Regions from separate parts of the Homo sapiens genome. Here all the other regions are linked to region 1. Evidence: fine-mapped expression QTL. A gene starts in region 1. Each other region holds a variant in brackets. All regions are shown on one strand. Distances are between the middles of the regions.

Evidence for each region. PIP is the estimated chance that this variant, and not a neighbour inherited with it, causes the effect. A credible set is the group of variants that fine-mapping cannot tell apart.
Region 2: its variant is the best candidate, but not a certain one, in a credible set for the expression of SLC36A1 in neutrophils (Naranbhai 2015, PIP 0.51).
Region 3: its variant is the best candidate, but not a certain one, in a credible set for the expression of SLC36A1 in skin (TwinsUK, PIP 0.87).

The regions. Positions count from the first base shown.
Region 1 is chr5:151,445,084-151,449,325 of GRCh38, reverse strand. SLC36A1 (solute carrier family 36 member 1) reads right to left here and starts at 1,723. Exons shown (of 11, transcript NM_078483.4): 1 at 1,513-1,723. RefSeq lists an enhancer at 1,694-1,743.
Region 2 is chr5:151,480,890-151,485,131 of GRCh38, reverse strand. The region is part of intron 10 of SLC36A1 (solute carrier family 36 member 1); the gene reads right to left. Among named protein-coding and RNA genes, the nearest start is that of SLC36A1, 35 kb to the right of the region's middle. The variant A/C (reference allele first, on the strand shown) is at 1,606.
Region 3 is chr5:151,469,544-151,473,785 of GRCh38, reverse strand. It overlaps SLC36A1 (solute carrier family 36 member 1), which reads right to left. Exons shown (of 11, transcript NM_078483.4): 8 at 15-113. Among named protein-coding and RNA genes, the nearest start is that of SLC36A1, 24 kb to the right of the region's middle. The variant T/C (reference allele first, on the strand shown) is at 2,089.

The sequences.
Region 1 (4,242 bases):
AATTACTGTAAACGAGGCTCTAGACAAGAGTCAGAAGAGGGCCCTGATCATGTTTAAAATAATAACAGACAGTTAAAAATCATTTTCAGCTGTTAGTATTTAGCTTAGACATAATACAGAGATAGGAAGAAAGAGGAGGAGGATTTTATAGCAACAGAGGAATAAGCAGAGGAAACTGCTTCCTACACAATTAGATTAAGTCTTGTTGCAAGGCTGATACTCAGTGTACACAGCGGGTAAAATCTCTCGGAATAAAAAAACAAACAGACCCTGGTCAGGGGCACTGGCTCACACCCCTGTAATCGCAATACTTTGGGAGGCCAAGGTGGGAGGATCACTTGAGCCCAGGAGTTTGAGATCAGCCTGGGCAGCATAGTGAGACCTCATCTCTATTTAAAAACAAACAAACAAAAAAACAAGCCTAGAAAGATGCACAACATCCAGATCACAGCAGAAGGGGCCCTTAAGAATTCAATTCCATCACTGTCTAGACTGAGAAACCCAAACGCGAGTCACTTAAGGTTGCCAGGTAAGCGGCAGAGCTAGGACAAAATATCCTGATTCCCCAATCTCTGTTCTGTCCATTGCACCATGATGCTATCTTCAGCAAAATTCAAATAACTGCAAAACGTCCATCCAAATAAGCAATCCCAAATCTGACAAGTTACAGAAAAAATAAAGCAAAGGTCTTTACATTCTTCAAGTTAACGTCAGGGCTCTCCACAACCTCGGCTCAGCCACCTATCTTCCCAGAAGCACATTCCGATTCATATTTCATATTTTGGTGTGACTTACATAGAATGCAGGAAGGTTAGAAACCAAACCTACAGAAGGATGAGTTTGCAGAAAAATAATGAACAAACAGGGAACCACACCCAGAGCAAATCCAACCCCAGCGGTGGAAAATGCAGACAGCTAAAAAGGGAGAGGACTAAAAGAGAAAGGGACAGAAAGGAGTGCCTTTTCACAGGTGAAGTTTCCCGCAGGAGGCGGTGTGGCGAAAAGCAAACAGCTGCTGAAGCTTAGGAACATTTGCATTCTAGTCGCAGGTCTCCGGGTCTCCGATTAACTCACTGGATGACCTTAGGCAAGCCCTTACCCCTTCCCGGAGTAAGGGCTCAGTTTCTCCAACTGTCCTAGGAGGGAGCTGCACCAGACGACTTCCCAGCGTCCTTGCAGTTCTGACCCAAAGACCCATTATGAGCCTGTCTCAAGCAGCGCTCCCGCAGCGGGCAAGACATTTGCTGGAAACGGGGAGACCTGTGCGAAGCGTGAAAGACGCCCTAGATGGTCCTTTGGGTTATCTTCACCATCTACCCCAGTTTCCCCCACCTGTCAGTCAAACAGGACGGTGAGATCCCAACCCCACGAGGTCAAGGGAGATAGCGCGAGGGACAAGGGATCTCCACGCTTCGCCCAATTCACAGAGGGGTGTCAGCGTCGTACCGCAGCTGCGGCCCGGGGACGCCAAGGAGTCGCGGACCCACAGCCCGGGCGGATCCAGTGCCTGACCTGGAGCATCTGCCACGCCGGGAGGAAGGCGAGGTGGGTCCTGCCCAAGGCGGCGAGCGCCGCCAGCCGGCAGCCAGTGGAGGAACTCACTGCTCGGGTTCTGGCCCCAGCTCCGGCTCCGGCTCTGGCTTCAGCACAGCCCACCCTTCCCGGGTTCAGTATCAGCCCCTCGCCATCCTCCTTTGCTGCCCGGCAGCCGCTTCCGGACCTCATCACGTGATCCCACCGCCCACGCCAGAGGCCGAGGTCACGTGCTCCCTTGAGCGGCCGCGCCTTTTTTCTCACTGAGCTCCGGAGCTCTGCTCCACAGCACCACCTGGCGACCTATTACTGCCACTGCTGGAAGGACTATGTTCCTGGGCGCTGGGGACTGCGAATAGGAACTGAACAGGGCATTGATCTTGGGCATGGGGCAGAGTCCAGTCGAAGAGCACTGTCCCTTGAGTTGTGGGTTTGTGAAATATTGCTAATTTTTACACTGGCTGTATTTTCTTTTACACATCTCGATGAGTTTGTATTGCTTTTATAATAAGAAATATGCATATTTTTAAAACTTCCAATTTTTCAGAAGCATACACAAACTATCATCTGTGGTTGCTACTGGAAATGGAACTGTGGGGTAGGGCAACATTATCTTTTAATACATTCAAATTTTTAAAGTAACATTTTTAAATGGATGGCAACATTTCAGTATTGTATTATCTAGGCTTCTCCTTTTACCTCCTTGTTACAGACTTTTCCTTTAACAATTATGTAACAAATAGGCTTCAAGTCAAAAACTGTCACAAGAGACAGAGAAGATCATTGTTTAATAATAAAGGGGTCAATTCATCAAGAAGACACAACTGTAAATATATATGCATGCAAAATTGGAGCACCTAAATACATACAACTAATATTAATGGCCATGAAGGGAGAAATAGATAGCAACACAATAGTAGGAGGGTCAATATCCCACTTTCAACAATGGATAGAGCAACTAGAGAGAAAATAAGGAAATAATGAACTTGAATTGCACTTTAAACCAAATGAACCTAACAGATATATACAGAACTTTCCATTCAACAGAAACAGAATACACATTTTTTCTCTAACACACTTGAAACATTCTCTAGAATAGACCATATGCTAGTCCAAAAAACAAGCCTTAAATTTAAGAAGATTGAAATCATATTAATATTCTTTCAGACCATAATAATATGAAGCTAGAAATCAATGACAGGAGGAATCTTGGAAAATTCACAAATATGTGGAAATTAAACAACACGCTTTTTTTTTTCTTTGAGACAAAGTTGCGCTCTTATTGCCCCATCTGGAGTGCAGTGGTGCAATCTTGGCTCACTGCAACCTCTGCCTCCTGGATTCAAGCGATTCTCCTGTCTCAGCCTCCCAAGTAGCTGGGATTACAGGCACGTGCCACCACGCGCGACTAATTTTGTATTTTTAGTAGAGACGAGGTTCACCATGTTGGTCAGGCTGGTCTCAAACTCCTGACCTCAGGTGATCTGCCCACCTCGGCCTCCCAAAGTGCTGAGATTATAGGTGTGAGCCACCATACCCAGTCCTATGCTTCGAAACAACCAGTGGGTCAAAGATGAAATCAAACGGGAAATTTAAAAAATATTTTCAGACAATTGACAATGGAAACATAACATACCAAAGCTTATGGAATGCAGCAAAAGTAGTTCTAAGAGAGAAGTTTATAGCAATAAATGCCTACATTAAAAGAGAAGAAAGAGACCAATTAAATAGTTTAACATTATACCTCAGGAAACTGGAAAAAGAAGAGCTCACAAGACCCAAAGTTAAAAGAAGAAAAGAAAGAGCAGAACAGAAATAAATCAAATAGACAACAGAAAAAAAAACAGACAAAATCAATAAAACTAGAGTTGATTTTTTGGAAAAAATTAAATTGACGTACCCTTTGCTAGTCTAAGAAAAAAAAGAAGACTAATAAAATAAAAAATGAAAGTGAAGACACTACAACAGAAGCTTCAGAAATAAAAAGAATCATATGGGGCTATTGTGAACAATTATTTGCCAACATATTGGATAACCCAGATGAAATGGAGAAATCCCTAGAAAAATACAACCTACCAAGATTGAAATCAGGAAGAAATGGAAAGCCTGAACAGACTAATAACAAATAAAGAGATTGAAGATGAGACAGGGACTATCTGACTTTCTGGTTTTCTGTTTAAACTTCCCAACAAGACCAGATGGCTTCACAGCTGACTTCTACCAAACATTCAAAGAAGAAGGTTTGTTACTAAACTCTTCCAAAAAATGGAGCTAGAGGGAATACTTCCAAACACATTTTATGAGGCCAGCATCACCTTGATACCTAAGCCAGAGAAAGACGCCACAAGAAAAGAAAATTACAGGCTGATTTCGCTAATGCACATTGGTACAAAATCCTCAATAAAATATTTGCAAACAGAATTCAACAACAATCAAAAAAATTATGTATCATGACCAAGTGGGATTTATCCCTGGCATGCAAGGCTGGTTTAACATACACTAATCAAGCAATATAATACATCATATTAACAGGATGAAAAATGAAAACCACATGGTTATCTCAATTGGCCTGGCAAAAGCATTTGACAAAGTCCAACATCTTTTCCTTCCCTAACCCCCACCCCAACATACCTTCTTGATAAAAAAAAACTCTCAATAGTTTAGGTATAGAAAGAACATTCCTCAACATAATAAGGTCGTTTATGAAAA
Region 2 (4,242 bases), 36 kb before region 1:
CCCCAAACCTTGAGGGTTGAATATGGAGAAAATTGGAGGTAAAATTGTAGGCTGATGACAAAACAGCATTCTCATCATAGGTCATCTAACGCTCAACAAAAGAGCTGGTCTGCTGTGGTACCGACACCAAGACACTTGCCCTCTCTGGGGTCTGGGTCTCCCTGCCTAATGTCATCCTTGCAGTGATGGTGCCAGGTGTTACTGTGGGGTGGAAGCTGCACTGAGGTAACAATCGGGAGAACTGAGCCCCAGGGAGAGGGTGGTATAGGAATGGGTGTAGGCTCTGGATTTGGAATGCCCAGGCTCCAACCTCAGCTCTACCACTCAGTGGCTAGTTACCTAAACTCTTTGAGACTCATTTCCCCAACTACTAAACAGGATGGTCAAACGATATCACTCATGTAAAGAACTCAGCGTTCTAAAAACCAATAATAAATGCTTCAATATTATCACCAGTCCCTGCTCCATAACAAGCTGAGTGGTGCAGGGCAAATCAGCTTACTATTCTGAGCCTCAGTTCATTCGTTTACCTGTGAAATGTGGTAACTGGGTGATGTCTGAAGTCTCGCCCAACTCTGAAATTCTAAGGAACTATACACTCCAGTGTTAGTCACTTAGGACTGTGTTCTGGGATATGTTCCTCACCTCACTGACAACTGGGAAGCACCACGTCCTGCCTGAGGGTGGCACAGCAAAGCGATGGGGCTCCAAGCCTCGAACACATGGCTTGCCCAAAAGGGAGCTTCTAACCCACTCGGTTTTGTATGGATAAAGGAAGTGTGAGTTATTCCTTCAGTCCCAGCCACACAAGCATCTCCACAAATGCTGATGTCCGCTCAAGAGACAGGAGGCCTTTATTATCAGAGAAAATGAGTCCCTGGCAGGAGACAAATCAGAGCCTTTCCCAGCCCTGAGAGTCTGTCATCTCCCCACCCTCTCCCATACTGACCTAGCAGGACATATGGGCACTTCATGATAGTTAAGTGGAGTCAGAGAGATGCTCCACTCTGTGGTGGGAGTTAAGTGGAAACAGAAACAGAAGATTGGGATCAGAATTTTTCCTCTGATTGGACAAAGATCTTCCGCTTCATCATGATATTTTATAAGTAATCTAAAAACTTGTTCTTGTTTTCACCACTATATAAGATAAACATGCCTAATAAAAATATCCTTAATAGAGATTTTAAGAACATTTCTCTCCTCTTAAAGCCAGGACCACAGGGCTGCAAAGGGAAGTCCTTCTTCCTGTCCTAGCTGAACCACATACCACCGCTGAACCCTACATGAAGCGTGACACTGCAGAGGGCAAGAAGAGCGAGCCTCCCACTAACACAAAGTGGGAAGAAGAGAAGGATGTCCAAACCAAATCAGCATCAGCAGCCCCCAGGGTTCAACAGCACGGGTATCTGTTTTGCCACCATGGAAAATGACTTTAACTAACTCCAGAAGCAGCAATCGACTATGCAGACATGTGGGGCAAATAAAACCCCTTCTGGCACTAAATGTCTTCTGTGAGTTAAAGTGCCTATGAAGAGACACTCAACAAGGTAGATATCTCAGGAAGCAGCCAGCCAGGAACAGCCCTCTCCCTACTCTCCCCTAATC[A/C]CCCCCCCCACACACACAAAGACCCCAGCCCAGACAAAAAGGAAGACATTTGTATAACAAATGCAGTTATACACTTCTCAGCAGCAGCTCAGCTGTGGCGTGTACAAAAGGGGGGACAGAGGACAACCTCAGCTCGACCACATGATTAGTCAAGAGGGCTCCAACAGTATTACAAAACATCTTCCCTTCGAGTCAAGAGACACAAAGAATATGAGCTTTTAAACTGCTGAAGCAACATAAGGCCAACAGTCATGTTCACAGAAGGAACTGGATTCTGGAGCCTGTGGTTTTGAACCAGCATCAGAAAGAGCTGACTTATACACAACAAGAGCAAAGCACTGAAAAGAACAAAAGCGAACTTACGAAATACGCTGGCCATTTATGGCTCCTGTGCTGGGAGCTCTTGCTGCTATTTTATTATGATCAAAGCTGTTAAAACTTACCAAGTTACTTTTATTTATTTATTTTTATTTTTATTTTTATTGTTTTTGAGATGGAGTCTCGCCCTGTCACCTAGGCTGGAGTGCAGTGGCGCGATCTTGGCTCACTGCAAGCTCTGCCTCCTGGGTTCATGCCATTCTCCTGCCTCAGCCTCCCAAGTAGCTGGGACTACAGGCACCTGCCACCACACCAGGCTAATTTTGTTTTTGTATTTTTAGTAGAGACGGGGTTTCACCATGTTACTTTTAAATGTCTATAAATATGCCTTTAAAATTCATAGTAGTCTTGGACAGTATACAAAGTTTGACTTAGTGGGGGTATAAATTTAAAAAATACGAAAACAAGGGAAACAACCACCATGTCCAACATGAAAGGAGTACCTTAGTTAATATGATCCACCAATACAGTGGAATACCACGAGGTCATGAAAATATTAGTGAAAGATATGAATATTTGTGATATAAAACTAAATAAAATGTGAAAGACAAAATTATGTGTAAACTACAATTGCAACTATTTTTACAAGGCACCCATGAGGATTAAGACACAGAAGATACAATGCAAAAAAAAATTACTTTGTTAAATTGGTGGAATACTGGAATTTCTTCTTTTATTCCCAAATGTTTTTACATTGACTTTCTTTTTTTAGAGTAATATTTGTGTAGAAACTTAAAATCAAGCGCAAAGCACCTATACAGAATCACAGAATTTTGGAGTTGAGAGAAACCTTAGAGGTCAGACACCCTTCCTATCTTACAGTTGAGGACCCTGAGGCCTTATGAGGGTTCCTGGGCGGGGAATGCAGGGTGGGGGGTGGCAGGGTTACACAGCTAATTAATGATGCTGCTCTTCTTCACTGTAGCTGCAAGACTAAAAAGTGTGAAAGGCCCAAAGGTACTAAGAAGCTACTCTGTTTGGACCTGGAAGCTTCATCCTCTAAAAATCCGACTGCTTGGAATGTTTTGCAGCTCTGCATTCCAGTCTGAACAGGCTTCTTGGATGATGCGATTTTAGGTAATTATATCTTCAGAAATAGGTTTCTGAAATTTTCATAGCAAACTGAAGTAAAATGTTTCACATGGCAAATGACACAGAGAATCAGTATGAATCACTGAAGGATGGATGGGTTATTGCTCCAAAGAAATCTAAAAAACCGTTGATCCTACAACTCCAGACTCCACAGGTGGGGCCAGCCTCTTCCACACAAGGTCTGGACATAAGGTGACCTGCTAAGTCCGCATTTCCAAAAATATGGGCTGGAAGTAGATACTGTCCGATATGAAATCATAACAAAATGAGCACTATCCTATGAAATACTTGTTTTCCCTCCCCCTCTTCTCCAACTGTTTGAAATTAAGCATCACAAAGTCCGTATCAGCCATAGTAATCTTTGGAGGATGGGGGAGAGTGGTGAGAAAGTTGAATTCCAAGAGGGAAAAAAAAAAAGAAACTACACTGAATTCCTCCTGTTCCCTTTGGAGGGTGAAGAGGAGGAGGAAAAGTTGGGGAAAAGATAGGAAAACACCAGAAATAGTAATAAAAGAAGCTGCTGTTAAAATTTATGAATATAAATGAAAAAAATCAATTAAAGATCTAAAATCACATACTAACCAACGGTGCTGAAAGATCTGAAAGAACAGAGAAGCAAGAACAAAATGAACGCGCATAAATACATTTAAGTTGCTGCTGCCATGAAAGGCCTCTACTGAGTCCCACAATTACTTCAAAGTCTCCAAGGAAGGTGAGAGAGGCGAGTGCTCTCAGACATAAAGGGGGCTGCCTTTTTGAACAGGATGACAATGCAATGCTAAGTCACAACAGATCACAGAAGGGAAAAACAACTGCACACACTTGAAGACCAAAAGCAGCCGTGTCTTCTGAGCATCGTCCTGTTGAAGGGAGATGAGACTCACAGACAGGGCCAGGAAAAGTGAAGCAAAATCCAAGAGGCATCTAAGGATAACATGAGGTCTGTGAATCAGAGACTGCTGTCTCCTGCAGGGTGCTGCAGAAATAAACCTGGCAGGAAGTGTGACATATGCTACAGGGAGGCTGAGCCAGGCTGGAGGGGAAAATTGGGCAGGGAGAGGAGTCAGGCTCCTGTCACTGCCCCAGCTCAATAGGCAGGGTGGAGGAGCTGTTTAGTCAGGAAGGCACATTTTACCTACAGAGACCTACTTTTTCCGGAGGGAGCAC
Region 3 (4,242 bases), 24 kb before region 1:
AGTGCAGCTCTTACCATTCCAATGCCTTCAAATGAAAAAATCGCTGTGCCAAAGAAGAGAGGGTAGGTCTTCCAAGGGGCCACCAAGGGGAGGTGGCTGGGGTCTGGGATCCTCTGAAAGACAGAAAGCAAAACAAAGCAAAACAAAGCAAAAGGCTATACAGAAATTCAAGATTTGAACTCTGAATCGGAGAGGTCATACCTTTTAACAAATCCAAGATTCTCTAAAGGAAGAAAGTCTAATACCTGACAGATGATTTAGGGACATTTAACCTTTGTATGTTTTTCTCTTCAGGCTAAGAAAAACCCACTTGTTTGGGGGAAAGACAAGCCCAAGGTACTATTAAAAACTCAAATGTTGGGGCTTGCATAAAAAGAGTCACATTCTTTCACTAGGTAATCCCATCCCCAGAAACTGAATTCAAGTAGAAAAAAAATCAAAAGATGAAAAACACTGAGCAAAGCTGTTTAATAAAGTAACTGAAAACAATATAAGTGCTTCCAAACAAGGGATCAGTTAAGTAATTAACAACATACCAGCTAAACCACAGAATATATATTCTATCTATCTATCTATCTATCTATCTATCTATCTATCTATCTATCTATCTAGAGACAGAGTCTCCTTCTGTCACCCAGGCTGGCGTGCAGTGGCGAGATCTCGGCTCACTGCAACCTCCCTCTGCCTCCTGGGTTCAAGCAATTCTTCGTGCCTCAGCCTCCTGAGTGGCTAGGACTACAGGTGCGTGCCACCACACTCGGCTATTTTTTGTATATTTTTGGTAGAGACAGGGCTTCACCATGTTGGCCAAGCTGTTTGTGAACTCTTGATTTCAAGTGATCTGCCTGCCTCGGCCTCCCAAGGTGCTGGGATCACAGGCGTTGGCCACTGCGCCTGGCCAGTATGCACTATTAAAAAGTAAAAATTGAGATAACTAAGTAGAACATGAAAAACTACTTACGAAATATTAGTGAGAAAAAATTTTAATTTTAATTTATATATTCACTCTGATACAACTACATAAACATCAAAGATAAAGCTGGAAGGGAAGAGAAAGTGGTACATTTTTATATTGGTTCTCTTCCTTTTTCCTCTTCTTTTCTTCTCCTTTTTAAAATTCTCATCAATGAACTTGAGCACTTTCAAAGTATTACCAAGAAGCACACAACAGGAGTGCTGGAACATGTGGGGAGGAGGAGCAAAAAGAATGCTTTAAAAAATGGGCCAGAAAAAGGGCAACTGTTAACTGCAGGTACAATGTTAAGGTTGTATAAGGAAGGAGGTTGTGATGGTTAATACTGAGTGTCAACTTGATTGCACTGAAGGAGGCAAAGTATTGTTCCTGCGTGTGTTTGTGAGGGTGTTGCCACATTTGAGTCAGTGGACTGGGAAAGGCAGACCCACCCTTAATCTGGATGGGCACAATCTAATCAGCTGCCAGCTCGGCCAGTGGCCAGATTAAAAAGCAGGCAGAAGAATGTGAAAAGGCTAGACTGGCTTAGCCTCCCAGGCTACATCTTTCTCCCGTGCTGGATACTTCCTGCCCTTGAACATCAGACCTCGAGTTCTTCAGCTTTGGGACTTGGACTGGCTTCCTTGCTCCTCAGCCTGCAGACGGCCTGTTGTGGAAACCTGTGATTGCGTGAGTTAATATTCCTTAATAAACTCCCCTATATATGTACATCTATCCTATTAGTTCTGTCCCTCTAGAGAACCCTGACTAAGACAGAGGTATAGTCACAAAATCCTCCACCGAACAACAGTCTCCAGTAACAGACTGTGTGGAAGGGGCAGGGTGGGGAGGAGGGATTCAAAGCTGCTGTCTTTTTACAATTTGGTTTTCTAAACCACATGTGTATGTTGCTTCAATTAAAATAAAAATTGATGTTAAAACAGCCTTTTACAATGTTTTAAAATTGATTTAACTGTATGGCTATTTGGATAATACGGGGCATGCTCTTAACAGGCTTCAGAATAATTTCAGGCAAGTAAAAGGAGATCCATTATTAAGCTCTATAACAGCCTTCACTTTGAAAGATTTCAAAGCAGTAATATTGCTTTTGAAAAAATAAAAAAATTAAATAAATG[T/C]GTTTCCCTGGGCCCCTGCTAAGAAATCTGTTAGATCCCTTTGTAAGAAGCATTTCAATACCTGGAATGAAGACAGGGTAATAGGTATTTTTCCTTTACAATGGGACTTGAGAGCAAGAGTGGCCTGTAATTATTCCTGAGTCACAAATGTAACCTAAGTTATTGGAAACAGGTGCTATCTGTTGGTTAGTGAATGACTCCTGCTCTTATTCATACATCAGATCAGATTCAAGTATCAGACTGGGAATTTCACAATCCATATGTGGGGATATTGTGGGAATGAGGCCAGCAGAAGAAGTGTATTATTCTACATACTTACTGATTGCTACTGACCCAACCAACTAAATGAGAAAAGTTTAATTTATAAAGAAACATACATGTTAAAATCAGCTCGTTATTAACATATCTCCTCAATTCTACAACACAGTAAGTCCTCCCTTGTCGTCAATAAGTTCTTGGAAACTGAGACTTTAAGTGAAATGACGTACAGTCACTTCCTTCAACGCTGTTTTGTTATAACATTGATGAGAAAAAAACTGATTTCGCTATACATACATTTAATGTATTGCAGTTTCTAAGAATGTATCAATGATATTAAGTGAGGTCTTACCATATTATCAATTATAATAACAGTATTTTGAGAAAATGCTGTTAAAGGTACACATGGATTGTGAGATGTACTCTTGCAATCCTGAAACTGTTATAACTATGAAAAAATACATCTCAGAAGCAACGATATGCAGTGATAAAACATTTATTGGGAGCACCCTCTGTGCAAAGCACTCTGCCCAGAACTGTTCCATTTGAGACTCCACATGCTGAAGACAGAGAGGAACCTGCTCTCTGTGGAAGACCTTGGTCTGCTACCTACAATGGCACGTGCATGAGGGGCAAGAGGAACAGTCATGTACATGCTTAGGATTAGGGAAAAAATTCAGAAACATTGAACAGTAGGGGAATCCTCATGGTAAGTGGGGCACAATGCCAAAACAGAACAGTAGTAACAAGCCGCAGAGGCAGCGGCAACAAAAATGACCTAAAGGGAGCATCTTTAGCTGTATGACACATCAAAATGAAGCAACTACAACACTATGGGCAGTGACTACATCAAAACACAGCCAAACCTCTTCCCCCATGCTGTACTCCAGGCAGACGGCACTATTTGATCACAGCACAACTTCTGGCTAAGCCCAGAGGAAGACTCAGAATTGCTCTCAAGAAATCAGCAGGGCTGCCCTTATGCAGACATTGCTCTGTGTCCTGGTTGTACTATGCATAGACATCACTCTGGATGGATACTACCAGTTGGTTGGGACTGAGACGCTATAAGAACCCAAATTCTTATCCCAGCCCTCTGATCATGGCAACCACCACAGCCCGACTACCTGCAATGATTTAAAAGTAAATGCAGCAGGTGTGTCTGTCTATGGGGGTGGCCTCACTCAATTCATCTTTAGTGTACAGTGGAGTATATCCTAGGTGCTCTTGAGAGTTCTAATTACAACATGAAATCATGGGTAAATATTTACCCTTCCTTGTTTGGTAATGGAAATGGTCTATAGTGCATTCACAGGCCCTCCTTCCAGTCTCATAAAAAGGGGACGTGAAGAACTATTTATTTTATGTTTAAAAAAATAGTTCTGCAGAAGAGTCAATATCTGCCACTCATCTGACTTAATGTGATGAAAAAACAGTCAATACTCACAGAGCAAAATGTTAATCTAAATTGATAATGTCATTTGCTTAGCACAAGAAGTCCTGCTTTTTATGAGCCACTGTCTTCCTGGAAACTATATCAGTGGGTGACTGGGTCACTGTTAAGCAGACTGTATGAAAATGAGATAATATTCACCTGTCAGACTGACCAAAATAATACTAATATAATTATACTATATATAAATACTAATATATCATACATATATCAAGAATACTAATATAAATAATACTAATACATCCAGTATTAGTAAGGATGGAAAAATGGGCACTTAAATACTGTGGAAGGGAGTCTCTATGAAATTAGGAAATAGCTTTTGGAAAAAACAACTTGGTAACATAACAAAAATTCAAAAGTGCACACTCTTCAGCAATTACACATCTAGACAAATATCTTAAGTATTTATACAAGTCCACAAAAAGGAATGTATAAGAACATCT